2 linked regions of the Homo sapiens genome follow. The protein of the gene in region 2 interacts with the protein of the main gene of each other region in a pairwise test. Each region holds a gene or a part of one and is shown on either strand. Other genes may lie near its edges.

The links.
Region 1: the proteins of PPP3CC (region 2) and SPATA33 interact in binary tests that used the Homo sapiens proteins (3 or more experiments, as listed by UniProt).

Annotation. Positions count from the first base shown.
Region 1 is NC_000016.10:89,653,602-89,667,616, reverse strand, and holds the start of SPATA33 (spermatogenesis-associated protein 33), read right to left. Parts: upstream 9,782-14,015; 5' UTR 9,706-9,781; coding exon 9,669-9,705; intron 9,550-9,668; exon of another isoform or gene 9,370-9,549; coding exon 9,196-9,369; coding exon of another isoform or gene 9,166-9,195; intron 7,078-9,165; coding exon of another isoform or gene 7,067-7,077; exon of another isoform or gene 6,109-7,066; intron 1-6,108. Other genes in the region: CHMP1A (charged multivesicular body protein 1a), read left to right, coding at 10,029-10,035. UniProt on the Homo sapiens protein: Plays an important role in sperm motility and male fertility. Required for sperm midpiece flexibility and for the localization of sperm calcineurin to the mitochondria. Promotes mitophagy as well as acts as an autophagy mediator in male germline cells.
Region 2 is NC_000008.11:22,516,686-22,532,181, reverse strand, and holds part of PPP3CC (serine/threonine-protein phosphatase 2B catalytic subunit gamma isoform), read right to left. Parts: intron 9,692-15,496; coding exon 9,614-9,691; intron 9,528-9,613; coding exon 9,433-9,527; intron 8,540-9,432; exon of another isoform or gene 8,426-8,539; intron 4,791-8,425; coding exon 4,665-4,790; intron 3,677-4,664; coding exon 3,605-3,676; intron 881-3,604; coding exon of another isoform or gene 854-880; intron 1-853. UniProt on the Homo sapiens protein: Calcium-dependent, calmodulin-stimulated protein phosphatase which plays an essential role in the transduction of intracellular Ca(2+)-mediated signals. Dephosphorylates and activates transcription factor NFATC1.

The sequences.
Region 1 (14,015 bases), on a different chromosome or scaffold from region 2:
ATCATGGCTCACTGAAGCCTCAACTTCCTGGGCTCAAATGATCCTCCCACTTCAGCCTTCCAAGTAGCTGGGACCACCAGCACGCACCACTGTGGGCGGCAAGTCACCCAGGTGCCGAGGCAAGAGACCGAGGGCACGAGCTGTTCCAGTGTAATAAAATATATAAAATAAGAATAGTTATACTAGATCTAGATCACAGACATGATTATATATGAATATCATTAATTAATTTGTAGCAATTACTCTTTATTCCAATATTATAATAATCCTCGCTCTACAATCATAACCTAGGAAAAACCAGGTCATACAGAGACAGGAGCTGGGGGGACATGGTGAGAAGTGACCAGAAGACAAGAGTGTGAGCCTTTTGTTATGCCCAGACAGGGCCACCAGAGGGCTCCTTGGTCTAGTGGTAACGCCAGCGTCTGGTAGGACGCCCGTTGCCAAGCAGACCATGGTCTAGCAGTAGCGTCAGTGTCAAGGAAAAACACCCACTACTTAGCAGACCAGGAAAGGGAGTCTCCCTTTCCCCAGGGGAGTTTAGAGAAAACTCTGCTCCTCCACCTCTTGTGGAGGGCCTGACATCAGTCAGGCTTGCCCGCAGTTATCCAGAGGCCTAATCGTCTCCCTGTGATGCTGTGCTTCAGTGGTCACGCTCCTAGTCCACCTTCATGTTCCATCCTGTACACCTGGCTCTGCCTTTTAGATAGCAGTAGCAAATTAGTGAAAGTACTAAAAGTCTCTGATATGCTGAAATAACGGCGTAAGCTGTCTCTCTGTCTCCTCTCTCTCTGCCTTGGCTGCCAGGCAGGGAAGGGCCCCCTGTCCAGTGGACACATGACCCACATGACCTCACCTATCATTGGAGATGGCTCACACTCCTAACCCTGCCCCTTTGTCTTGTATCCAATAAATATCAGTGCAGCCTGGCATTTGGGGCCACTACCGGTCTCCACGGCTTGGTGGTAGTGGTCCCCCGGGCCCAGCTGTCTTTTATCTCTTTGCCTTGTGTCTTTATTTCTACGCTCTCTCATCTCCGCACATGGGGAGAAAACCCACCGACCCTGTGGGGCTGGACCCTACACACCACCACACCCACCTAATTTTGAAATTTTTTGTAGAGACACGGTTTTGCCATGTTGCCCAGGCTGGTCTCGAACTCTCAGGCTCAAGTTATTCTCCCACTTCACCCTCCCAAAGCGCTGGGATTACAGCAGCCATGAACCACTGTGCCGGCCATTTTCTTCCATTTTTAGAGAAGGGTCTCACTCTGTAGCCCAGGAAGGAGCGCAGTGGCTATTCGTGGATGTGATCATAGCAAACTACAGTCCTAACCTCCCAGGCCCAAGTGATCCTCGGACCTCACTGAGTAGCTGGAACCACAGATCCCACCTATGGGACCATATATTCCCACATCACCATATCTGGCTTTTTTTTACTCTAACCTACTTGAGTATCAGAGGGCCCGACCCCCTCATGCCTCTGGTTTTCCAGATGTTTCCTACTGCTTTCATTTTTATTCATTTATTTATTTTGAGATGGATTCTCACTCTTGTCGCCCAGGCTGGAGTGCAGTGGCACAATTTTGGCTCACTACAACCTCTACCTCCCAGGTTCAAGTGATTCTCCTGCCCCAGCCTCCCCAAGTAGCTGGCACTACAGGCACCCATCACCACGCCTAGCTAATTTTTGTATTTTTAGTAGAGATGGGCTTTCATCATGTTGGCCAGGCTGGTCTTGAACTCCTGACCTCAAGTGATCCACCTGCCTCGGCCTCCAAAGTGCCGGGATTACAGGCGTGAATCACTACACTTGGCCTCATTTTTATTCTTTAGATGAACCTTTGAATAATCTGCTCATATTCCCAAAAGATCTTTTGTGTTTTGACTTGGTGTTGACTGATTTTACAGAAGTTAACGTATTTACACTATTGAAATTTTCTAGTCTAAAACAAGACTTATTTCATCTTCCTCAAAGTATAGTTTCTTCATTTAGAAATATTAGGCCAGACGCAGTGGCTCACGCCTGTAATCCCAGCACCTTGGGAGGCCGATGCGGGCGGATCACGAGGTCAGGAAATTAAGACCATTCTGGTTAACATAGTGAAACCCCATCTCTACTTAAAAAAAAAAAAAATACAAAAAATTAGCCAGGCGTGGTGGCAGGCACCTGTAGTCCCAGCTATGCGGGAGGCTGAGACAGGAGAATGGCATGAACCCGGGAGGCGGAGCTTGCAGTGAGCAGAGATGCACCATTGCAGTCCAGCCTGGGTGGCGACAGAGCAAGACTCCATCTCAAAAAAAAAAAGAAATATTAATCTTGGGCCAGGTGCGGTGGCTCACGCCTGTAATCCCAGCACCTTGGGAGGCTGAAGCAGGCAGATTGCTTGGCCTCTGGAGTTCGAGACCAGCCTGGGCAACATGACAAAACCGCATCTCTACAAAAACTACAAAAAATAGCTGGGGGTGGTGGCGTGCACTGTGGCCCCAGCTACTCAGGGAGCTGAGGTGGGAGAATCGTTTGAGCCCAGAACGTCAAGAGTGCAATGAGCCAAGATGGTGCCACTGCACTCCAGCCTGGGTGAGACCATCTCAGAAACAAAACAGAAAGAATAAATGTGACTCTTCTCAAGGTTCTTGGTACATATTGTGTGTACTTCTATTGCTGCACAACAAATCACCACCAACTTCAGGGCTGAAACCAGCACATCCACTTATCATCTTACTGCATTCGTCGTCAGGGGTGCAGGTGCAGCGTGGCTGGGACGCAGGCTGAATTCCAGGGGCCGGCTGCACTGCATTCTCATGAGGAGCTGGAGGACCCTCTTCTAAGCCCATTCTGGTTGGAGGCAGAATTTATTCCCGGTTCAAGGAATGAAGTTCCCGTTTTCTCGCTGCCCTAAAAAGCCTCTGACACTTTTACTGTCTGGCTTCCCTGATCAGGTCGGGCCCTAAAGAGCCTCTGACACTTTTACTGTCTGGCTTCCCTGATCAGGTCGGGCCCTAAAGAGCCTCTGACACTTTTACTGTCTGGCTTCCCTGATCAGGTCGGGCCCTAAAGAGCCTCTGACACTTTTACTGTCTGGCTTCCCTGATCAGGTCGGGCCCATCCAGGATCATCTCGCATTTTGATGACGTCAAACTCAATGGATGAGTGAGCTAATCGCAGGAGAGACACACCTCCCTCTTCCTCATTCCACCCACACTCGAGGGGAGGGTTACACATGGCTGTTTCCCAGGGGCAGGGATCGTGTGGGCTGTCTTGAGTCCTGCCACCTTGTTACCAAACCGCCTTCCAGGAAGATGTGTGCCTCCACAGCAACGTGTCCGAGCCCCTGATCCAGAGTCAACTGATATTCTTTGGCCTCTCATAGATGTAAATATTTTTTTGAGCTTATCATTTGTTCTACAATTGTTTATAAGAGTTTGGGGAGAGGTTTAACATTTTAACGCAGTCAAATTCTTCAATATGTGTACTGTCTTTCCTTGCTAGGAAGCATAAATAGGGTCTTACTCTGTCGCCGGGGCTGGAGGGCAGTGGCACGATCTTGGCTCACTGCAGCCCCAACCTCATGGGGTCAAGGGATCCTCCTATCTCAGGCCCCTGATTAGTTGGGGCTACAGGCACACTCCACTACACCCAGCTAATTCTTGTCTTTTTTGTAAAAATCAGGTTTCACCATGTTGCCCAGGCTGGTCTTGAACTTCTGGGCTCAAGTGATCTGCCTGCCTAGGCTTCCCAAAGTTCTGAAATTACAGGCGTGAGCCACTGTGCTTGGCTCCCAAAGCGAACGTTTTATATAACTATAGTACCATTATCGACACGAGGAAATGGACTCCGGTACTATGAGTGTATGTACAGCTACGCCATTTAATCAATCACCACCAAAACCAACAATCCCATCTTCCTCCTGCTGCCCTTCAGACACACCCACTCCCTACCCCAACCCCAAAGCCCTGCCCTTCACAGACCCCCTCACTCCCTACCCCAACGCCAAGGCCCTAGCAATCAACAATCTGTCCTCCCTGTCTATAATTTTGTCATTCAGAGAATGTTACAGAAATGGAATCACGGCCGGGTATGGTGGCTCACGCCTGTAATCCTAGCATTTCAGGAGGCCGAGGCAAGCGGATCACCTGAGATCGGGAGTTTGAGGCAAGCGGATCACCTGAGGTCGGGAGTTTGAGACCAGCCTGACCAACATGGAGAAACCCCATCGCTACTAAAAATACAAAGATTAGCTGGGCATGGTGGCGCATGCCTGTAGTCCCAGCTACTCCGGAGGCCGAGGTAGAATTGCTTGAACCCGGGAGACCAAGGTTGCAGTGAGCCAAGATCGTGCCATTTGCACTCCAGCCTAAAAAAAAAAAAAAAAGAAATGGAATCATACAGCATGTGACCTTCTGGGATTGGCTTTTTTCACTCAGCATGGTATTTTTTAATAGCCAATAGAAGTGTTCCATTTCTCTTCTTTTTCAAAATTTTCTTGCAATTAAGTATACTCTACCTTCATGAAAATGTTACAGGCCGGGCGTGGTGGCTCACACCTGTAACACTGGCACTTTGGGAGGCTGAGGCGGGTGGTTCACAAAGTCAGGAGTTTGAGACCAGCCTGACCAACATGGTGAAACCCCGTCTCTACTAAAAATACAAAAATTACCCAGGCATGGTGGCGCACACCTGTAGTCTCAGCTACTCGGGAGGCTGAGGCAGAAGAATTGCTTGAACCCGGGAGGCGGAAGTCACAATGAGCCAAGATTGTGCCACTGCACTCCAGCCTGGGCAACAGAGCAAGACTCCATCTCAAAACAAACAAACAACAAAACGTCACAAAAGTGTTCAAACAGGCTGGGCGTGGTGGCTCACGCCTGTGATCCCAGCGCTCTGGGAGGCCAGGTGCGGTGGCTCACGCCTGTGATCTCAGCACTTTGGGAGGCCGAGGCGGGTGGATCAGCTGAAGCCAGGAGTTTGAGGCCAGCCTAGCCAACGTGGCGAAACCTCATCTCTACTAAAAATACAAAAAAAATTAGCTGGGCGTCATGGCGGGCGCCTGTAATCCCAGCTACTTGGGAGGCTGAGGCAGGAGAATCACTTGAACTTGGGAGGCGGAGGCTACAGTGAGTTGAGACCCGAGATCATGCCATTGCACTCCAGCCTGGGCAACAAGAAGGAAACTCCATTTCAAAAAAAAAAAAAAGTGTTCAAACACACAAGAAAATAGAATAGTGAATGAGCACCTGCACCTATAGAGCACTCAGCTTCAATCAGTATTTTGTTATCTTGTTCTTTCTTCGTTTTTTTCCTGAGTATCTTTTTTTTTTTTGAGATGGAGTCTCACTCCATTGCCCAGGCTGGAGTGCAGTGGGATGATCGTGGCTCACTGCAACCTCTGCTTCCTGGGTTCCAGCTATTCTCTTGCTTCAGCCTCCAAAGTAGTTGGAATTACAGGTGTGCACCACCACACCCAGCTAATTTTTTTGTATTTTTTGTAGAGACAGGGTTTCACCATGTTGGCCATGCTGGTCTCGAACTCCTGACCTCAAGTGATCCACCCGTCTCGGCCTCCCAAAGTGCTGGGATGACAGCATGAGCCACCATGCCTGGCATTCTGAGTATCTTTAAGGAATTTCAGACATATGATTTTACCCATAAATGTTGCAGTGTATTTATTAGATAGGGATTGTGTTTTAGCGTAACTATAATAGCATTCCCACATCTAAGAAAATTAACACGGACTCATCCTCAAATACCCAATCTGACTGTCTCAGGAGTGACGGAGCCCAGGTCTGAGAAAATTAACACTGACTCATCCTCAGATACCCCATCTGACTGTCTCAGGCGTGACTGAGCCCAGGTCTAGGTCGCTCAGATTTCCTTCTAACATCCCCTCCTTTTTTTTCAAGTTCTTTATTTGTGGTAGAATTTCCAACATTGTGGAATAAGGTGACTGTAAATCTGTGATGTTAGTTCTCTATAATGTTTGTATGTTTGTGAATTTTGTAATGCAAAAATTTAAGCATATACAGAAGTAGTAGGGGTAACAGTATAATACATCTATCTGTATTAGTCCGTTTTCATGCTGCTAATAAAGACATACCAGAGACTGAATAATTTACACAGGAAGAAGGTTTAATGGACTTACAGTTCCACATGGCTGGGGACGCCTCACAATCACGGCGGAAGGTAGGGAGGAGCGAGTCACATCTTACATGGATGGCAGCAGGCAGAGAGAGAGCTTATGCAGGAAACTCCCGTTTTTAAAACCATCGGATCTCGTGACACTCATTCACTATCACGAAAACAGCACAGGAAAGACCTGCCCCCATAATTCAATCACCTCCCACCCAGTTCCTCCCACATGTGGGAATTCAAAATGAGATTTGGGTGAGGACACAGCCAAGCCACATCAATATCCTAACAGCTGCCACAGTGATTAACTTATGGCCAAACTTTCTCCCCATCATGGCCCTTCTGTTCTTCTCACTACTGCTTCATAGTAACTTACCCCAAACCTCAGCAGTTTAAAACGATTTTCTTTTCTCTGGATTTTATGGGTTCAGGACACGTTTGGCAGGACAGGTATCACGTGTGGTTGTCCAGGCAGTTGGAGGCATGTGAAGACTCACTGAGACGTACAGGGAAGCTCTTGGGGCTGGACACTGATGCTGGCTCCCCCTGAGGTGCATGCCCCAAGCTGAGAAGACTCAAGGTTCCAGCCAGAGCCTGGAATCACTAAAGGCTTGTTTGCTCACAGGTCTGGCTCCTGGGCTGGAAGGGCTTAGGGACCAGGACTACTAAACTGCAGTGCTTCCCATGTTCAGATTCAGGTCGAAAACCATTTCCATCACCCTCCAAAGTCCTCTTGTGCTCAGCTGTGGCCGGCTCCCATTTCTGCCCAGCAACCACTCATCTGCTTCTCTCTGTAAATGTGCCTTTTCTGGACATTCCATGGAAAGGGAACTGCAACATGAGTGGTCTTTCCTCTGGCTTGTCTCACTCAGTGTCCCACCTTTGGGACTCCTTCACGGTGTGGCAAGGGAGTCAGCAGCCTGCTCCTCACTGTCGCTCAGCCCGTCACTGCATGGAGAGCGTGCACACTTCATTTTATCTGCTGAAACTCTGTTCTCACTCTTGCTCTGCTGTTTTCCCTTCATGTCCACCTTCCTCCCCCACCCTCTGGTGTGACAGACACTGCTGGGGCCCTTCCAACAGGCGGTCCTCCTTCCCCCACTTCCGTTACTGGCAGAGGTCCTGCCCACTCCCATGCTTCACAGCTCCCTCCAGCCCCTGGTGAATTTGCACCATTGAATGAGTCCTGCAGAGGCTGGGCAGGCGAAGCCTTCCTGGGAAAGGTTTCCTTGCTAATATGAAGCAAGGAGCAATGCCTTTGCAGTAGATGCAGTCCTGCCTGCGTGTGGGGGGCTGTACACTCATCGGGGGCTGTGGACACTGAGAGTGGTCAAGAAGAGACACGCAAAGTCTTTGATGTCACTGTTGTGCTAACAAGCCAACCTGGAAGCTCCACCTCTGACCCTTCATTCGTGAGACATTAAATCCCTGTGTTAAAGCTGCGTTTAGTGAGCTTTTCTGTAACTTTCAGCTAAAAGCACCGTGACAGACAGGTAGCATTTTCCAAACTGCCACCCAAGGGTGATGCTATTCCTGCAGGGTTCCATCCTCCGGTGGGGGGTTGCGCCCTCCTGTGAGGGGTTCCACCCTCCAGTGGGAGGTTCCAAAGTTGGGAATTCAAATCCAAGTCTTTCTTCCAAGTCCAAGGCCCAGAGCCTCCTACTTTCAGCCCTTGATCCTACAAGCGTGTCAGTGTGAAGCAGTCCAGGCCCAGCTCCTCTGCCTAGCAGGCCAGTCATCCCCCTGACATTCTTTCTTGTCTGACCCGAGTGGTTCTCTCCTTATTATTTTTTTTTTTTTCTGAGACAGAGTCTCACTCTGTAGCCCAGGCTGGAGTGCAGTGGTGCGATCTCGCTCACCACTACTTCTGCCTCCCGGGTCCCGGTTCAAGGTTCGAGCAATTCTCCTGCCTCAGCCTCCTGAGTAGCTGGGATTACAGGCACATGCCACCACGCCCAGCTAATTTTTGTATTTTTAGTAGAGACAGGGTTTCACCACGTTGGCCAGGCTGGTCTTGAACTCCTGACCTTAAGTGATCCACACGCCTCGGCCTCCCAAAGTGCTGGGATTACAGGCGTGAGCCACTGCGCCCAGCCGAGTGGTTCATTCTTGTGATGAAACTTAAAACACCTCCTCCTGGCACAGGCCCCCAATCTCCTCGGACGGCAGGCTCTGCGGGTTCTCCCTGCCTGACCCTTCTGCAATTCCTACTGCAAGGCCTTGCTGGCTCCCACTGGGCCACAGCAATGGGTCTCTGACCGGGCCACCTCCCCTGCGAACTGGCTTCCCCTGTTGGTAGGCACAGACCTCATCATGCCGCCCTTGTTTTTTATTTTTAAATATTTATTTTTTGTAGAGACAGGGTCTCACTATGTTGCCCAAGCTGGTCTTGAACTCCTGGGCTCAAAAGATCCTCCTGCCTCGGCCAAATAACTGGGAGGACAGGTGTGAACTACCGCCCCAGGCAGCACCTCCGTTGTTTAAAATATTTAACGCTTCCAGCTCCACGTGGTAAAACTGATGGAAAACTTTGTATTCTAGCTTCTTCCTACTTTTGGGGCCTCATCTTCCCCACACACACCCAAAGGTCTGGCCACACTAGGCTGTTATAAAAGACACCTTTGTCGCACCCAGGTTCTACTCCTCGGTCACCCTCCGCAATGTACTTATCCCCACAGCCCTCGGAGAGCTACAGTCCAGCCTGGGACGGCCTCCCAATGCTCTGTTCCAGTGTGCGGAGGCTCAGGGATTCTCAGTGGCACCAAGATACCCAGCCCTCGAGGAGAACCTCAGGTGAGACACACGCACACTGCCCCAGCCCCTCGACCACCTGGTACGCACTTATCACTCGGGAACTGACCTACATTTTCATTAAACTTATGTTTTCAACTAAGATTTCTGGATATTTACCTCCTACATAAAGTTCCCAAAACAAACCAGTTTCATCTTTACGGCGCGTGCCTGCTACTAGTGTCCATCCGGTAGGGTCTTACAGTAGGCTCCTCACCCCAGCCCCAGATCCTCCAAGCCACTGACCTCGCTTCGCTCCCTCCCGCCGTCTCCTACCTTCCAGCGAAGCTGCCGGCGGCGGGTGCTTGGCTGTCCCGGCCCCCGGGTGGAGGCTGTCCACAGGCTTCTCCGACTCCCTGTCTGCCTGCCTGGCTTCCTGGGAATGCTTCTCCATCAACTTCTCCTTAGATTTTGGAACTGAATAGGTGGATCCCTTCTTTTGCTCCTCACCTGAAATATATGGATCATCCGTTAGACCCGGGACTTACCGAATGCAGGGCAGTGGGTCCCATCGTCTTCAGTCGCCTGCGTGGGTCCAGAATAAGCTGGCTTCAAGTCTCGAGTCTCCGCGTTTCCGTAACCGCCTCAGGCGGGAAACGCGCCGTCCGTGGCGGACTCGGCGGCAGGAACGGTTCGCACCGGGCCGAGCCTGGCGCCTGCGCTCACACCGCCCCGCCCAGCCCAGCCCCGCCCTGGGCCCGCGCCCAGGGGCGGAGACGCGGGGAGCCCAGCGCCTGCGCCTCCTTTACCTTTCCTGGGTTTCTCTTTGCTTTTGGAAAGGCCCATGGGTGAGCCCACCGCCCCCTCCGACGCAAGCCCGGGTCCCCACACCTCCGCGGCCGCGGAGCCGGGAGCGACTCACAAAAGGTCCTCGCGCCAGCGGCGTGCGTCACCATGGCGACCGCGCGCCGCGCAGCCGCGCCCCGCCCCTCTGGCGGGACCGGCCACCATCCTCTCGCGAGAGCATCCCGTGCGACCGGAAGTGGGGCGGCGACCCCGGAAGTCCCCGCCGGGTGCAGCTTGGTCGGTTCGATCGCCGCCGGGACCTGACACCGCCCGGAGTTGGCGTCCCTTCTCCCTCTCCGAGTGCTGCTCCTGTCATTGTGGCCATGGACGGTAAGAGGTCGCGGCCGTCCTCCGGGGACTCGCGCGCGGGGCGGGGCCGCTTCTCCCACTGGCGTGGGCTCCGCCCACCTGGGGCCGCGGGCAGGACTCAGGAGAGCTCGGGCCTCGACCGTCGATCCCCCGGGACCCCATCCCCAGGGCCTCGACCACCGACCTGGGACCCCTTTTCCCGGTCGTCGTCCCCCGATCCCCGACCCGGACCCCATCCCCAGGGCCTCGACCACCGACCTGGGACCCCTTTTCCCGAGCCTCGTCCCCCGATACCCGACCCGGAACCCCTTCCCCAGGGCCTAGACCACCAACCCGGGACCCCTTTTCCCGGGCCTCGACCCTCGATCCCCGACCCGGAACCCCTTCCCCAGGGCCTCTACCACCGACCCGGGACCCCTTCTCCCGGGCCTCGACCCCCGACCACCGACCGGGACCCTTCCCAGGCCCCCGACCCCCAACCCGAGATCCTTTACCCCGGGCCTCGACCCTCGACCCGGGACCCCTCCCCCCAGGCCTCGATCCCCGACCCCCGATTCGGGACCCCTTCCCCGGGGCCTCCATCCCCAAATCTCAACCCGGTATGCCTTCCCCGGGGCCTCGACCTCTGACCCCCAACCATGGACCCGGGACCTAGACTCCCGACCCAGGACCCCTTGCCCAGGGCCTGGACCCCCGACCACCGACCCAGGACCCTTTCCCCCGCCCCTGGCACTCCTCAGCGTCAGGCGCCCTTTCCCGCCAGCTCGGTAGGGGGGACTGTGCGATGCCTGTTCGGCCTTTCGGGACTTGGAATGTCGGGTCAGAGGGCACCAGAAAAAGTGACAGTTGCACCCCCTGCCCCAAACAGCATCACTGCAAATCAGAAGGACTCAGACAGAAAGCGCTCCCTGAGTGCCAGGCCCTGGTCACAGCAGCTCTTTGCGTCCATTCTCCATGTGGGGAAGCAGAGGTTTGAGCAGGAGCCAGCACAAGCGTTTCTGTGCTCAATGGGTCGCCCTAATTCTTACCTTCTACATCTGGGGCTAGCCGGCTGTGTGCTCAGGGATACCAAAGAACAGGAAGAATCTGGCAAAATGAAGTCCTATGTTTGCTGAAACATCGTTGGGCTGGTGTGATGGGCAGGCTTTTAAAAATACTTTTTGAAGGGCTGGGCGCGGTGGCTCACGCCTGTAATCCCAGCACTTTGGGAGGCCGAGGCCGGCGGATCGCAAGGTCAGGAGATCGAGACCATCCTGGCTAACACAGTGAAACCCCATCTCTACTAGAAATACAAAAATATTAGCCAGGCGTGGTGGCGGGTGCCTGTAGTCCCAGCTACTCGGGAGGCTGAGGCAGGAGAATGGCGTGAACCCGGGAGGCGGAGCTTGCAGTGAGCCGAGATCGCGCCACTTCACTCCAGCCTGGGCGACAGAGCGAGACTCCGTCTCAAAAAAAATTCTTTTAGTTAGAAGTGTGAAAAGCTATAGTACCACCGTGTCATCATCATGAAGGAAATGTGTAGAGATTTTCTGCCCTGAGAGAAGATGAAAGATAACATCTACCTCCCGCCACAAAAAATATGCTGGCCAGGCCGGGTGTGGTGGCTCAGGCCTGTAACCCCAGCACTCTGGGAGGCCGGGCGCGGTGGCTCACGGCTGTAATTCCAGCACTTTGGGAGGCCGGATGTGGTGGCTCACGCCTGTAACCCCAACACTTTGGGAGGCCGAGGTTGGTTGATCACCTGAGGTCAGGAGTTTGAGACCAGCCTGGCCAACATGGTGAAACCCCGTCTCTTCTAAAAATACAAAAATTAGCTGGGCCTGGTGGCGTGCACGTGTAATTCTAACTACTTGGGAGGCTGAGACAGGAGAATCGCTTAAACCTGGGAGGCAGAGGTTGCAGTGAGCCAAGATGGTGCCGTTGCACTCTAGCCTGGGTGATAGAGTGAGACTCCGTCTCAAAAAAAAAAAAGAAAAATTGTGGCTTTTCACTCCACAGCTCACTCAACTCTTTTGAGGGGACTTCTCTCAAGCCCATGTCAGATTTCCTCAGAGTCAGATTTTGCCTTAGCTGGGTTTTTGTGCTGCCACACACGGCTGGAAGAGAAAGCTGAGGTGAGGAAAGCTGAGGTGAGGGAAAGCTGAGGTGAGGAAAGCTGAGGTGAGGAGAGCTGAGGTGAGGGAAAGCTGAGGTGAGGGAAAGCTGAGGTGAGGGAAAGCTGAGGTGAGGGAAAGCTGAGATGAGGAGGGCGGTTTGGCCAGCATCCCACAGTGAGTTGGGTGGGACGGCCCGCCTGGCCTGCACTGTGCCATCTGGGTCAGGCTGGCTGTTTTCCAGTCACAGATAACCTTGGCCGTGACCACACCTGAACTGATAGATGACAGGTTGAACTTGGCCTTGACCACGCCTGCACTGACAGGCGATAGATTGAACGATGCCCAGAGCTTTCTGGAACCCCGGGAGATCTCATCTTGGAGCCTTGGTGTGCATTTGTGAACACTCAGTAACCTCATTCTTTTACAGGCTCCATTTCCTCGTTGTGGCTAGTGTGGTAAAGCCCTTTCAGGAATCTGGGGTCAGGGTCGCTCTCCAAATTTAGCAGTTGAATGAATTGAGATCAATCCTACTTTTTAAAAAAAATATTTTTTCTTTTTTTTTTTGAGACGGAGTCTTGCACTGTTGCCCAGGCTGGAGTGCAGTGGCGCAATCTCGGCTCACTGCAAGCTCTGCCTCCCGGGTTCACGCCATTCTCCTGCCTCAGCCTCCTGAGTAGCTGGGACTACAGGCGCCCGCCACCACGCCTGGCTAATTTTTTGTATTTTTTGGTAGAGACGGGCTTTTACCGTGTTAGCCAGGATGGTCTCGATCTCCTGACCTCATGTTCCGCCGGCCTCGGCCTCCCAAAGTGCTGGGATTACAGGCGTGAGCCACCGCACCCGGCAAAAAAATATATATTTTTCTAATAGAGATGAGGTCTGACTATATTCCCTAGGCTGGTCTGGAACTCCTGACCTCAAGTGATCTGCCCGCCTCAGCCTCCCAGAGTGCTGTGATTACAGGCGTGAGCGACTGTACCGCTGGAAATCAGCTCTTTGATGTCTAAGAGTTACCACCTTGCTATTTTTATCCATTTACCTTTGAGGAGAAAGAGTCTGTAAAAAGTAAACTGTCAAGTACTGAACTTTTAAATTGGCCCAGGCTGGCCTCAAACCCTGGCTTTAAGTGATCCACTGGCCTCGGCACCCCCAGAGTGCTGGGATTACAGGTGAACTTTTAAATTGGGAAAGAATCCCAAGGGACATTTGCAAAGTTGCATTAATTATAAACCACCATCTTTTGGATTCTAACCATGGCCAAAAGATGCTGCGTCCATGACCTCTTCTGTCCTCACACTAACCCTTTGAGATTGGCTGGTACCACCCTCATGTTCCCAACAAGGAAACAGGGAGGGAGGGTCTGCATTTGCTGGGCCCTGTGGCTAGCAAGGAGCCAGGGCTGGCACACGAATCTGTCTCGTGCCTCCCCTGTTGGGGGGGGCTCCCCGAAGGCCCCAGGCAGGTGTGGTCTGTGTGTGTGTTCTAGCTCCTGGTGTCTAGAAGGAACCTAGTGAGTCCTGCCTGCCAGAAGTGTAACGTCCCATTCCCAATCCTCAAACCATTAATTCCCTCTTTCTTTGCAGATACCCTGTTCCAGTTGAAGGTATGTACCGAATGGCCGTTCACCCCAGCCCTGTTCTGGTGAGGACAGATAGTATAAGCCACGCTCACTCAGAGCCACAGAAACAGTCGGGCAGATTATATAACAGTTGAGTGACCGCCACACAGGGCTCAGACTGCTGACCAAGGAGGGGATTATTGAGCCACCTTGGTGACATATTAGCTCTTTTCTTATCTGAGGCTAAGTGGAGGCAGATCCTTAGGGTCATCCATGAAAGCCATGAAAGAAATAGTGTTATCTTTTTTTTTTTTTTTTTTTTTTTTGAGACGGCGTCTCACTCCGTC
Region 2 (15,496 bases):
TAGGCTGCCTTTAAAAAATTCAGGATGAAGTGTCTTAAGTTAAAGAAACAATTGTTTTTAAAAAACAGAAATGAAGGCTTAAGTTTGTTTAAACAAACAAAAATCTCAGGAAGTTCTAAGGAGCAAGAGAAAAAATGACTCAGAAGATAAAAAGATGAAGTAAAAAATGAGAGGCCACAAAAAAGACAGACTGGGTGGATCTATGAGAGGTAGGAACTTATTTGTGGTTGTGAAACGTAGAGCACAGCAAAGAATAAAACACACACATACATAAACAAACCTCACAAAGAAAGCTGCTACAGCAAAGATGTCTTTTGATAATGCTGTGGGCCACCTTAGGGTGCAGGGTTCGGCCTGCCAAATGGCAAGTGATCATTCCAGCAGCTGTCTTCTGTATGTAAACACAACACCCAGCTAGCTCTCCTGAACTTAGTGAGGGCTGCTTTCATTCTATAAGCTTCACTTATATTAGTGAGTTATTGCCTCACGATACTACTTACAACTGTGCACTATTTTAAAAAGCAACAACAGAAAAAGTTAACTTAAGACTTTATGGCTTTTTCTTATCTAAGATTCTGAAAATAGCCCACACATGAGAAGCCAAGGTCCAGCATGCACCAGGTGACTACAGTCAAAAGTCAGAAAAAGAAACATGGCCTCTCCTTCCTCACATCCAACCCTCAGCACCCTGCCAGATCACGCAACAGGTCCAGAGAAAACATATACATTAAAACTGAAGGGGCGGATGGAGAGCCTTTCTGAAATTATTCAACTACCAATTTTAAGTCTAACCAATAGACTATGGTGGGACAGAGAGTAAGCATTAAGCTCTTAGCACAGTTTAGTCGGATACCTTTCTGATAGCTTGGAATGTAGTGATCTTCAGGGAGAAGAAACACCAAGAAACAAGGAGATGAAGACAGAAATATGAGAAGAGAAATTTATGTTTACATGGAAAAGAGAAAAAAAAATCAAAGTGAAATGCAATGAGAGAAACAGGCTATTATCTTTACCAGCTCATAAGAGATATCCTTGGAATCATGATACAACATTAAATTGCAAATTTATTTTGTCAGTAGTTTCTTCCATTTCTTAAAAGTTTATGGTTTTACATTAATTCACATCTATGAGCATCCAATATTTTCTAACCCCACAGATCATGAAAATAACATTAAACAAAGATATTATTTGCAGAATAAATGATGCCAAAAACAAGGAACAAAAACGGAGGACAGAACAGTTTACAAATCTCTTCACAGGAATAGTATGTTTTTTTGTTTAATGGATTCTATAGCTTCTCTTTCAGGGGATATAATTGTTCTTCCTTTTTTTTTTTTTTTTTTTTTTTTTTTGAGATGAGTCTCGCTCTGTCGCCAGGCTGGAGTGCAGTAGTGCGATCTTGGCTCACTGCAACCTCCGCCTCTCAGGTTCAAGCAATTCTCCTGCCTCAGCCTCCCGAGTAGCTGGGACTACAGGTGTGTGCCACCACACCCCAGCTAATTTTTGTATTTTTAGTAGAGATGGGGTTTCACCATGTTGGCCAGCATGGTGTCGATCTCCTGACCTCATGATCCACCTGCCTCAGCCTCCCAAAGTGCTGAGATTACAGGCGTGAGCCACTATGCCCGGCCCATTCTTCCTTTTTATTTATTTATTTATTTATTTATTTATTTTTATGTTTGTGGTGGGAAAGAATAGGAAATATATGTGTTTCTGTTTGTTTGTTTGAGACAGGGTCTCCCTCTGTTGGCCAGGCTAGAGTGTAGTGGCAAGATCTCCGCTCATTGCAACCTCTGCCTCCCAGGTTCAAGTAATCCTCCCACCTCAGGCCCCCAAGTAGCTGGGACCAGAAGCACTCGCCATCACATCTGGTTGATTTCTGCATTTTTAGTAGAGATGGGGTTTCACCATGTTGCCCAGGGGGATATTCGGTTTTTCTTTTGTTTTTCACTTGGCTGCACTATTTCCTCAAGAAGAACTGGTTCCTTGTAGTCATCTCCTATACCATAAATAAAAACACTCGCAAGCTATCTTGCATATGCTGTTGATCTTCAGTGCGGAACCTGAAGCATGAGTGCAGAACCTGAAGCATGAGAGTGTATGGTAATTTCCTCTAGATTCCCAAAGGGAGTTGTGTTTTCTCCACGATGGAGATGGTTTATCCTCACAGTTAAGGGAACCACCTTAGCACAGAGCCTGGATAGGATGAGGCCGGTTTGTGCTTGGATGACCACCACTTTTCCAGAATCTCTTGCATTGTCAGACAAGTCAGGACCTACCTTTATAATCAAACCTCCCACAGCACACTAGGAAAAAAAGTACTTGGCTACATATATAATAAAATGTTACTGTATAAAAAGATCCCTCACACACCAATAAGAAAAAAATCAAAATGGGGCTGGGCATGGTGGCTCATGCTTGTTAATCCCAGCTCTTTGGGAGACCGAGGCAGGCAGACCACTTTGAGCTCAGGAGTTCCAGACTAGCCTGGGCAACATGGCGAAACCCCATCTATACTAAAAATACAAAAATTAGCTGGTCATGGTGGCACGCGCCTATAATCCCAGCTACTCGTGAGGCTAAGGCAGGAGAATCGCTTGAACTCGGGAGGTGAAGGTTGCAGTGAGCAGAGATCGCGCCACTGCACTCCAGCCTGGGTGACAGAACAACACTCTGTCTCAAAAAAAGGATAGAAGATATGAATTGACAAGTCACAAAAGAGAGATAAACATTGCCAACAAACACAAGAAAAAATTGTCCATTAGTCTCATAAAAATATAAACTAAAAATTTAATTAAAAACTTAGTAACACCAGACTATAACAAGTATCATAAACAGTATTGGAGACAGCACTGTGACTATGCATCCTGCAAAATGTAAAGTGGTACAGCCTTTCTAGAGGCTGTATCAGAAATTTCTATCTGTATCAGAATTGTAATTTTAAGTACTAATTGACACAGATATTCAATTTCTACAAATTCATCCTATGGAAATAATCAAGAAGTGTTATTCCTGATTTTCTAATATTGCTTTACTTCCTTTCATCTGACATATTTATTTACTGTTTTTCCTCCCTACACTAGCAAATAAGCTTATTGAGAGCAAGGACCTAAACAATACAGTACTTGGTATATATCAAGCATGTAATAAATATTGGTTAAGAGAATGTGCACATTTTTATCTAAACAAATGTTCAAAACTATATGGGTTTTGTCGGCAAAAACTTGGGAAAAACTCCAATAACCAACACCACCGGGATTAGTTACAACACTGATCAACATGGACAACTACAGATCCATTAGAAACTAGTCTACAAAGAAACTCCACAAAAATAGTGTACTACAGAGGAAAGCTATGTGCAAAGATAAAAGACAATTAACACAGTATACATTAAGATGTTAACTGTGGATATCTATAAGATGATGGGATTATGGGTGACTTTTTTTCCTTATTTATGGTTTCTCGTATTTTTCAAATTTTATTTTTCTACAATGAACTAACTTTATTTTTAATAAGACAAAGAAAATCATTCAAAATAAACTAAAACAACTAAAACCAAAACCAAACCTCTTTCTAGTTTTAGTTCAAAGGAGGAAAAGTTTACCTTCTGCTTCATCATCAGAAATCAGTTCGTCATCAGAGCATATGTTGAGCACATTTACCAGCATCTCTGTGACTAAGTAAGACAAAATAATCCAAAATTTACGCGATTAATGAGGTACTTTCTCTAAAATAATGTGGATATCTAAATAAACACACATGTTAAGTAAGCATAAGCAAAAATTATTTATCATTATGTTAGTAAGAATAGCTATAAAAAGTAGCATAAATGTAAACTTTCAGGTTTAAAAAGAATTTGGGTAGATTACTTGCTCCAGTAAAAGTCTGGAGTCTTTGAAGATCTATTGCCTAATTACTTGATTTTACCGGATTGCTGTTCAGAGCTTCTTCCCACACTGATACACACGTGAGAAAATTTTTTTCCCACTTTACAAAGTTAAGCCAACAGGCCTACGTCCAACAGGCTTAGCTAATTTGAGTAGCTGTACAAATAAAATTGTAAGGACAATAAATTCTGTTTAAATCTCTTCAGTACTGAAGAAATCTGAGGGAATGACAAGTAACTATGTTATTTTAACATCTTGATCATAGTAGGTCAGCTACTTTAAATTGATATTTACAATAAAAAAACCATAATATATTAAAATTTAAGAACCAATTACATGCCATTTACAAATCTATGTAGAGGCTGGGCACGGTGGCTCACACCTGTAATCCCAGCACTTTGGGAGGCTGAGGAGGGCGGATCACTTAAGGTCAGGAGTTTGAGACCAGCCTGGCCAATATGGTGAAACCCTGTCTCTACTAAAATGCAAAAATTAGCCGGGTGCAGTGGCACGTGCCTATAATCCCAGCTCCTCAGAAGGCTGAGGCAGGAGAATTGCTTGAACCTGGGAGGCGGAGGTTGTAGTTAGCTGAGATCGTGCCACTGCACTCCAGCCTGGGTGACAGAGCGAGACTCCATCTCAGAAAAAAAAAAAAAAAATCTATGTAGAGAACAAACAAAATTAGAAAACATTTCTGAATCATGGAGGGGCTCATGCAAATATAAGGTATGCTCAGTCACCAAACAACTGATGAGACATGTGCTTTAGTTCTCTTACCTTTTTCCCCAACAAAAGGCAAAGACCATGTGAAAACATCCATAAAGTTTGGAAGCCAGTAGGGGTGTGGAGAACAGTTAAACTGCCTGATATTCATGACATTGTTTTCATATTTCAACACAGCAGCTAAAAAGGAAAAAAGCAAGAAAATCTGGCACAGAGGAACATGGCATGGCAAGTGGTATGCTTTGTACAGCTGTGTACCTGCTACACAGAATTCGAGAACTTTCCATTTGTAAAGTCAGGACTTGACTAGGTAAAGGGCAGATGGAAAATTTTAAAGCCTTTTATTCAGTTCATTCTCTTAAGAATTATTCCAAGGAACAAAGTTACCTGAAGAGCTCATATAATAAAAGTACAAAAGAAACTGAAACTTTGGAGTCACTGCACAGTAACTATCTATATAAACCTCAAGATCCACGTGAGGAAAATTTCCCCATAATTTCCTTTTATAGGCCAAATGGTTATAATTACAACTCTCCTTTGAAGGCAAAAATTACTCATTAAATGGACACAGCCTGTTTTGCTAGTCATTAGCCAGAGTCAAAGATTGTATACACTCTCTGGGAGTTTATATATTGCAGTTATCAACTCATACTGGAAGATACAAATGGCAAACTTGGAGCAATTTACAATTAAATGTTCAAAATTAGATTAAGTCATCTCTGTATTCAATATAGCGGATTTTAAAATTGCCGATTTCTCCAATACACAGCAGTGTATTGCCAGCATGCTATGTTTAATATTAACCATTCAGATAGTCGCACACATACTTTGATGCCAAACTGATTTTCTTTATATTTTGAAAGTCTTAAAATCCAATTCCTTAGCCTTTATCACCAGCAATGTTGTTTGCACTATTCTCTTAATTATTCTGTGGTCATAAAATAAAACAGGGTGTAACAGTTCTCCAGAAATGACAGATATAGGTCACGTCCTCATTCCTGTTTCTTTGCTACAGGATAATCTAGTGTTCTTAAAATTTAAGTTATTGAATGTCTAAAATGTACACCATATATTATTAAGAAAATAAATTAAAATATAGTTTCTAGCACTTAAAAAGCCTAACACTGGCTATGATGTACATGTTCCATTATTTTCACGTGTATGTATTTTATTTAGTTTAGGTAAATATGTCATATATCATTATTCAACAACTCCCTCAATTTCTACCCAGGAAAAAGAAGTGGGAGGTGAGTCTCAACAGTGAATGACTGGAAACAAGAGCTTATAAAACTGCTTTTGGGTGTGTTCCCAGTGGACAGAAGAAAACAAGAATAAGAATCTTTAAAAATCATGATTAAAGGTCTTTCGTGTAACTAGTGGAACTAGGAAATACCTGTAGATACCAAGAAGTCTAAAGAATATGAAAGAGCACTCCTAGCACTTTGGGAGGCCGAGGTGGGCAGATTGCCTGAGCTCAGGAGATTGAGACCAGCCTGGGCAACATGGTAAAACCCCGTCTCTACTAAAATAAAAAAAATTAGCCAGGCGTGGCGACGTGCACCTGTAGTCCCAGCTACTCGGGAGGCTGAGGCGGGAGAATTGCTTGAACCCGGGAGGCAGAGGTTGTAGTGAGCCAAGACCGCACCACTGCACTCCAGCCTGGGCAACACAGTGAGACTCTGTCTCTGAAAAAAAAAAAATAATATGAAAGAGGCCAGGTGTGGTGGCACACACTTGTAATACCAGCACTTTGGGAGGCCGAGGCAGGAGGACTGCTTAAGCTCAGGAGTTTGAGACCAGTCTGGGCAACATAACGAGACCCTATCTCTATAAAAAATATTTTAAAATTAGCCAGGTGTAGCGGCATGCACCTGTGGTCCCAGCTAGTTGGGAGGCTGAGGTGGGAGGATCACTTGAGCCCAGGAAGTCGAGGCTGCAGTGAATCAAGTTCCTGCCACTGTGCTCCAACCTAAGTGACAGAGACCGAGAGAAAGAGAGAGAGAGAGAAAGAAAGAGAGAGAGAGAGAGGGAGAGAAAGAAAGAAAGAAAGAAAGAAAGAAAGAAAGAAAGAAAGAAAGAAGAAAAGGAAGCAGAAAGAAAAAGAAAGAAAAGAAAGAGAGAGAGAAAGAGAGAGAAAAGAAAAGAGAGAAAGAGAAAGAAGAGCAACAGTAGAAGAAAAGGAAGAAGAAAAAGAATAATAGAGTTCCCTTTTTCAGAAAAGAAGGCACTTGTATGGGGAGTAACTGAGTACCCCCAGGGACTGTTTCAAATGCCACATTTTCTGCCTTTTTCCTTCTAAAATGCCTAAGAAACAACCAATGAAAATAAGACTGTTTTGAGATAAAAGTTACTAATTATGTCAAAGCCGACAGAATACTCAGGTAGAATGAACTGTGGCTTTTACTTTTTTTTTTATTTTTTAGAGACAGGGTCTTGCTCTATTGCCTGGCTGGAATGCAGTGGTGTGATCACAGCTCACTGCAGCCTCGAACTACTGGACTCAAAGGATCCTACTGCCTCAGCCTCCTGAGTAGCTAGGACTATAGGCATGCTCCACCTTGCCTGGCTAACTTTTAAATTTTTCTTTGTAAAGATGGGGTCACATTTTGCTGCCCAGGCTGGTCTTGAATTCTAGGCCTCAAGTGATCCTCCCCTTGGCCTCCCAAAGTGCTGAGATTACAGGCATGAGCCACTGTGCCTGGCCAGGACTGTGATGTTAAAAGTTTGCTAAAGAAATAATCAAGAACAAAACCAGGTTAGATTGAGACAAAAAACAAGCTAGCAGTGAGTGAGCTGTATAGTGCCTGCTGACTTAGGTGGCGTGTTTCAGCTTGGCACACTGATAAATCCATTGAGCAATCAATAGATACTCTTTTTGATGAAGTTAAAAAAGAAAGTGAGAAAGAAACACCTTCATTACAAATAGGAGATCTAGGGCCACAAGAGTCCTTGAAGACGTTTAACAACACAAACAGTCCACACCATTGATAAGAGAATAAATAAGAATAAAACCTAAGTTGCTAATATACTGGAAATATCAGGAAAAAGGAAATAACAAATGAACTTAGGGAGAAGCAGAGCATTGTAGGACAGATAAGGCTCAGAGAAGAATGCTAAGTTAAATGAAAACATAAGACTAGGACAGAACTTAAGTTAAAGACATGCTTTTTAAAATAGACAAGTCACTGGAGGACACACTAAAATGACTGACCCAAATCGGATTTAAATGAGATGTGCCATTCCATGGTTTACTTTTAAATAGAGTAAATATTAATTATATTTTGGCCATCTTTGAAACTTATCTCCCCAACTGCATATACAAGGTATAACTATAAAGTAATGAGACTTAAGAAACCACCAGCTACAAACACACCAGACCTTTTTATCAGATGAGTGTGGTCCTTTGATATTATCACATCAGGTACAATAACAGTAAAATCTGTATTATTATAGTAATTTATATTTTGAACAACACTTTAATATCCATTTTCCTTATTCCAACTTATCTTCAACAACCCCATATGACAGATATTTTAAAGATGAGGCTCAGAGAAGTATCTTGTTAAATGTGACACACTTAAAAGTGAAGCAGGACTAGACTGACTCCTTGCTTTGTGTTCTTTTCAGCACAACTTGTTGCCTTACCATATAATTAATCCAGAGATGCTGCCATTACTCAAAACGTTTTTGGAACTCCTCTTTTGGAAGTGCCTCCAGAGCCACTGTATCAGCAACACGAGAAAAACCAGTCTCATTACCTTATAATCATACCTTGTTTCTGACCCCAAATGGTATCATCTAGCTTGATCACTCACCTTATTTATCAGTCTTGACTCCGAATGACTTTTGGCTGTCCAAAAATCAAATCCACCCTCAAAGGACGAAGATTTCCCATCATTGAGGATAATCAAAAGAATGTGTCGCAGACTCTGAAGGCAATGCCAAAAGAGGAGTTCCAAAAATGTTTTTGAACAAGGACAGCATTGTTGGAATAGGTGTGTAGCCTCCCAAGGTAACTACTTTGAAGGGACAATACTCATTTGGATATGTTTGTTCTGGCATGTTTATTTTCAAAGTCCTATTAATTTATAGTCATACTTTATAAACAACAAAATAGTTACAGAAATATGAAGTTTTTAGTAGGACCACTGCCTCGATAGAAAACTTATAAACTATTAATCATAAAAGTTTTAAATTAAAAAAAAGACTTTAACAGGATAAAGTCTTAGAAGTAAAATTTCTGGAACAAAAGGCATGTATATATCCATTCTTCTTTTTTCATATGGGAAACTGAAGATTAGAAAGATAATGTGACTCACTCAAAGTCACAGTATTCGTTTCTGGCAGGGTTTAAACTAAAAATGAAGGTTTTTTTTTGACTTTGTACACTAGGTCACTCTACCTAGACCATATCTCAAGAAAAACAAAAATAGTTTAATAATTCACAAAGATTAAAATACCAATGGTGACTTTGAGATACTGTTATAAACACATTAAATTCACCAAAACCAATAATTTATGCTAACTATTCTGGCATGAGCCTGAAGCAATTTATTCTTCTTATACTTTGATTCTGTAGTATCAATCTGACCTATTATGATCATTATTTATACTCACAAAGAAGCCAGTAATCCTTAGGAGATAAAGACCAAGCAGCAGCATAAATTCTAAATTTCTTGGCCTTTGTTTCAACTAAGACCCCTTTTTTTCTTATTTAAAATTTATGTTTTAAAATGACACAAACACACATACGTACATACAATTAAACCAGAGCTCACGTTTACTCATAAATTCAAACTCAAATATTGCTGGATTCCTTTACCTTTATTGTTATAGACATCTAGGTAATTGGGGGCAGAGAAAATTGTAATAAGTGATGGAAAGCCTGTGGCTTGGCTCTTCCTGTACATTCGATACCTGAAAAAGAGATGAAAGTCCATCTGTCTGCATATTAAATGCAAAGACTCTGCAGCGATATTTGGTACAATTTTAATGTAACTTACCCAGCATCTTGGGCTTCATGGGCTCTGATAATTGATAGTAAATTATTGTTCTGCAAAAATTCACAAACTGCAGGGTAACTGGAAAAGAAAATTAGAAAACATAAATCCAGAATTAAAACAATTTTTTTTAATAGGAAGATGGGGAAAAGTCAAGGTGATATTAGCTGATTTTGTTTCAAAACTACAAGTATTACACACTACTGAAATTTTATGAATAGCTTAGTACTCATCATTCTGTTTCTCTATTTCACTAATATACTTCACTACAGATCAAACATGAAAACAATAGATAATCCTACAATAGAAAGAGCTCCTCCATCTCATCTTTTAATTTTTTTGTCTTAATCCATAACAATACAACACCAAAACTTTTATCAGTGTCTTGATATTACAAAGTACAACAGTAGTGTGTGTGTGTGTGTGTGTGTGCGTGTGTGTGTAGTAGATGCTAAAAATTCAACACATACTTTTCTTCAATTGTCAAATTGTTACAGAAATAAAAGAATATACTTACAGCTTCACAGGTAATATAAACACCAAGATAATATTATGCAGGAATACATATATACATATATATGTATATATATAGGTTTGTTTTTTTTTTTGAGACGGAGTCTTGCTCTGTCGCCCAGGCTGGAGTGCAGTGGTGCAATCTCGGCTCACTGCAAGCTTATGCAGGAATATTTTAGGAGCAGATGTAAATATTTTAGCCAACCATATTCTAAAAAAAGATACAATATTCTCATATACTCCTAAAATATTCTTTTCATACTATTACCTCTCTGAATGACAAATACCTGATAGGAAGAACTGGAGTATACAAAATTAACCTGGAATTACTTAGGCATTAATTATTTAGTTTATTTTTAAAATCTTTGTTTCTCATTATGCTCATTAGAACAAATTTACTTTTAAAGTAGGTTGTAGGTGACGTAAGCAAGATAGCAAAAGAGAATGTCCCCAGCCCTGGTCCTCCTACAGAAACAATAGTTTGGAAGCCATCCATGGCCATAAGTGCCATTGTAAGAACCTTAGGATTGAGGTAGGTGGTTATGAAACCTTGGTGGAGCCCAAGACTAGGAAGGGCTGCTTGGAGAAGGCAGGCCCACTGACCTTTCAGCTACAGACCCAGAATCAGCCTGTCCCTTGTAAACCCGGCTCCAGTCCCACTTGTCTGCAGTCCTACCACCAGCCTCATCCATCCTGGGAAGGAACCATGTCTGTTGATGCCCCTAGTAACAGATCCACCAACCAGACCCAACTGCAGACTCAAAGCAGCACTCTGACCTGGCTCCAGCCCTGCTCTACTGTGGCCAAGAGGAAGTCCTGCCTTAACAGGGGCCTTGTGGAAATCATGCCTGTCCATTCCTCTGGTAAAAGGGCTGCTGATTGGACCCAAACATAAACCCAAACCAGCCTGGGACCCAGCTTGGGTCCCACCCTATTGAGTTCCAGAGACAGCTCTCCCCATCCATGGGACATACTTGTCCATGCCCCTAGTGGTACGCCCACTGACTGTGAACCCTAATGTAGCCCCATAATCTAGCTTCAGCCCTGCTTAATCACAATACCACAGGCAATCCCATCAACCCAGGGACTCAATAGGAGAAGGTATTTACTTGGCGAACGAGTCCATAAAAACTGGAAGGCCCCTGCTCCTTCAAATGCATAGACTCCATTGCAAGGCTATATGAATTATAAAGAACCAGGCAAAAATGACACCACCAAAGGAAACTAATAAACCTCTAGTAACTGGCCCTAAATAAATAGAGATGTATGAATTGCATGACAAAGAATCCAAAATAATCATCTTAAAGAAGCTCAATGAACTACAACTAAACAAAATCAGGAAAGCAAATAAATGAATAAAGAGAGATGTTTAATAAAGAAACAGAAACCATAAAAAAGAAGCAAATAGAAATCCTGGAGCTGAAGAATACAATGACTCAACTGAAAAGCTCAAGAGACAGCTTCAACAGCAGACTCAGGCAGAAGAAAAGAACTGGGAAACTTAAAAGACAGGTCATTTGAAATGATAGCATTAGAGGGACAAAAAGAAAAAAGAATAAAAAAGAATGTGGAAAGTATACAGGACTTATGGGACAACATCAAGTGAAAATAATACAGGCATATGGGAGTTAAGGAGAAGAAAAAGGGGCAGAAAGCTTCTTATTTTTAAAAACTAAAGGCTAACAGTTTAACAAATCTAGGGAGGAAAAGGGACATTTCAATTCATGAAGCCCAAAGGTCTCCAAATAAGTTAAACACCAAGACTCATTATAATTAAGTTGTTAAAACTCAAAAAGAAAAAATCTGAAAGCAGCAAGAGAAAACCTACTTGTCATATAATATACAAGGAAGCTTCTATAAGACTATCAGTGAATTTCTCAGCTGAAACCTTGCAGGCCAGGAAAGCGGGAGATAATATATTCAAAGTACTAAAAGAAAGAAAAAAAAACCTGCCAACCAGGAATACTTTACTCATCAAAATTGCCCTTTAAGAATGAAGGAGAGATAAAGACTTTTCCAGACAAACAAAAACTGGAGTTTGTCATGACTACACCAGCCTTATGAGAGCAACTAAAGGAAGTTCAAGTAGAAACTAAAAGATGCAGCTGGCCACAGTGGCTCGTGCCTGTAATCCCAGCACTCTGGGAAGCTGAGGAAGGCAGATCACTTGAGGCCAGGAGTTAGAGACCAGCCTGGCCAACATGGTGAAACCCCATCTCTACTAAAAATATAAAAAATTAGCCAGGTGTGGTGGTGTGTGCCTGTAGTCCCAGCTACTCAGGAGGCTGAGGTAGGAGAATCACTTGAACCCGGGAGGCAGAGGCTGCAGTGAGCCAAGATCGCACCACTGCACTCCAGCCTAGGTGACAGAGCAAGACCCTGTCTCAAAAATAAAGTAAAACCTGAAATTAATTACATTAGGTGTGTGAATGGGGACTAAAGTGTAGAGTTTCTATACGTCATTGAAAGTAATTTCTTCTCAGCGTAAGACAGAGTGCTATAACTATAAAATGTTTGATGCAAACCCGATGAACAAAAAAGCACAGTAGATACACAAAAGATAAAAAGAACCAAAATACCCCACTACAAAAATAAAAATCAAATCACAAAGAGAAAAAGAGAGGAATAGTAGAACCACAAAACAGAAAGCAACCAACAAAATGGTAATAGTAAGTCCTTACCTATCAATCATTACTTTAACTCTCAAATCAAAAGATATAGTATGAGTGAATGGATGAAAACAAGACCCAACTACATGCTGTCTACAAAAGACTCACTTTAGATTTAAAGACACACATAAGCTGAAAGTAAAAGGGTAGAGAAAGGTATTCCATGCAAGTAAGTAACCGGAAGAGAACATGAGTGGCTAAACTTTTATCAGACAAAATAAACTTTAAGTCAGAAATCATCACAAGAGGGAACAAAAGTCATTATATAATGATAAAAGGGTCAATACAACAGAAAGATGTAACAATTATAAATATATATGTGCCCAACATCAAAGCACCTAAATATATAAAGCAACAACAGATCTGAAGGCAAACATTGACAGTAATAAAATAATAGCAAGTAGGACGGGCACAGTGGCTCACACCTGTAATCCCAGCACTTTGGGAGGCTGAGGTGGGTGGATCACCTGAGGTCAGGAGTTCGAAACCAGCCTGGCCAACATGGTGAAACTCCGTCTCTACTAAAAATACAAAAATTAGCTGGGCGTGATGGTGCATGCCTGTAATCCCAGCTACTTGGGAGGCTGAGGCAGGAGAATTGCTTGAACCCAGGAAGCGGAGGTTGCAGTGAGCCGAGGTCGCGCCACTATACTCCAGCCTGGGCGACAGAGCGAGACTCCATCTCAAAATAATAATAATAATAGCAAGTAACTTCAATACATCATTCTCTGTAATGGATAAATCATCCAGTCAGAAATCAATAAGCAAACAACAGAACTGAACAACACTATGAACCCAATGGACCTAATACGCATATACAAAACTTTTTGCCAAATAACAGAAGAATAGAATTCTTCCCAAGTGTACACAGAATATTCTTTAGGCTATATAATCACAAAGAAGTATCAACAAACTTAAGAAGATGTAAATCGTCCTAAGTATCTTTTCCCACCATAATGGAATGAAACTAGAAATCAATAACTTAAGAAAACAGGAAAATTCACAAATACATAGAAACTACACACCACACTTTTGAACAACTATTGTGTCAAAGAGGAAATCAAAAAGGAATTTTAAAATTATCTCTAGATAGGTCAGGAGTTCGAGACCAGCCTAAGCAACACAGCAAGACCTCATCTCCTCTAAAAATTTTAAAAACAATTAGCTGGGCATGGCGGTACATCCTGTAGTCCCAGCTACTCAGGAGGCTGAGGCAGGAGGACTGCTTGAGCCCAGGAGTTCAAGGTTGCAGTGAGGTATCATTGTGCCACTGCATTGAGCCTGGGTGACAGAGCAAAACATCCTATCTAAAAAAAAAAAAACCTCAAGATAAATGAAAACAAAAATATACATATCAAAATGTATGGGATGCAGCAAAAGCAGTACCTACAGGAAAGTTTATAGTAATAAATGCCGATTTAAAAAACAAAAAAGATCTGAATTAAACAACCTTATTTTACACTTCAAGAAACTAGAAAAAGGAGAATCAAATAAGCCCAAAGTAAGCAGAAGAAAGGAAAGTTTAGGGCAGAAATGAATCAAATAGAGAATAGAAAAACAACAGAAAAAAGTCAACAAAACTAAGAGTTGGTTTTTGAAAAACTAAACAAAATTGACAAACCCTTAGCAAGACTAAGAAAAAAAGAGATACTCAAATAAATAAAACAAAAAATGAAAGAGGAGACATTACAATAGATGCCTCAGAAATAAAAGGGATCATAACGGACTATTACGAATAATCACACACCAAAACACTGGAAAACCCAGAAGAAATGGATAGAGTCTGGAAATATACAACCTGCCAAAACTGAATCATGAAGAAATAGAAAGCCCAAACAGACCAATAGCAAATATGGAGATGGAATCAGTAATCAAACAGCTCTCAACAAAGAAAAGCACAGGACCAGATGGTTTCATGGGTGAATTCTATTAATCATTAAAAAAAAGAATTAATACCAATCTTTCTTAAACCTTCCAAAAAATAGAAGAGAGAATTCTTCCAAACTCACATTATGAGGCCAGCATCACTCTGATACCAAAGCCAAAGACACCAGAAGAAAGAAAAGTACAGGTGAGTATCTCTGATGAACATAGATTTTTAAATCCTCCATAAAACACTAGAAAGCCAAACTCAACAACATACTAAAAGTATTATATACTGTGGCTAAATGGGATTTATCCCTGGGATAAAAGAAGGCAGAGTATCACTTTGTTCAGCCTCAGCTGGGAACATGTGTGCTGGGTGAGTCAAATTTTTTATCTCATTATTCCCAGTAGCTACATTCTATAATGTTGCTGCAAAAACAGAATTAGCAAATAATGAAACACTACTGCTAAGGGAAATACAGGGTGAAGTTCCTGTGAGGCTCCGGTCATAACATTTTCACCCACCAATTAATATATAACCTTGTTTCAGATGTGTTTCTGTGTAATAATACTTTAGGTCATTTACACTGTTGATTCATTAACATTGAACTCATGGCCAAAACCACCATAACTCATGCCTAAACAAAGCTTATATCTAACACTCGCATATTTTCTCTGTAAGACATACCACAGCCTTTTTGTGCTTAGGGACCCTAGACAGCAGCACTTCAGCACTACACTTGGTGGCCATTCTAAACAGTGAAATCACTCATGAAAAGCACAAAAACATAAAACATCTTTCACTAAATAAAACTCAAAAGAATGCCTGTTTACAACA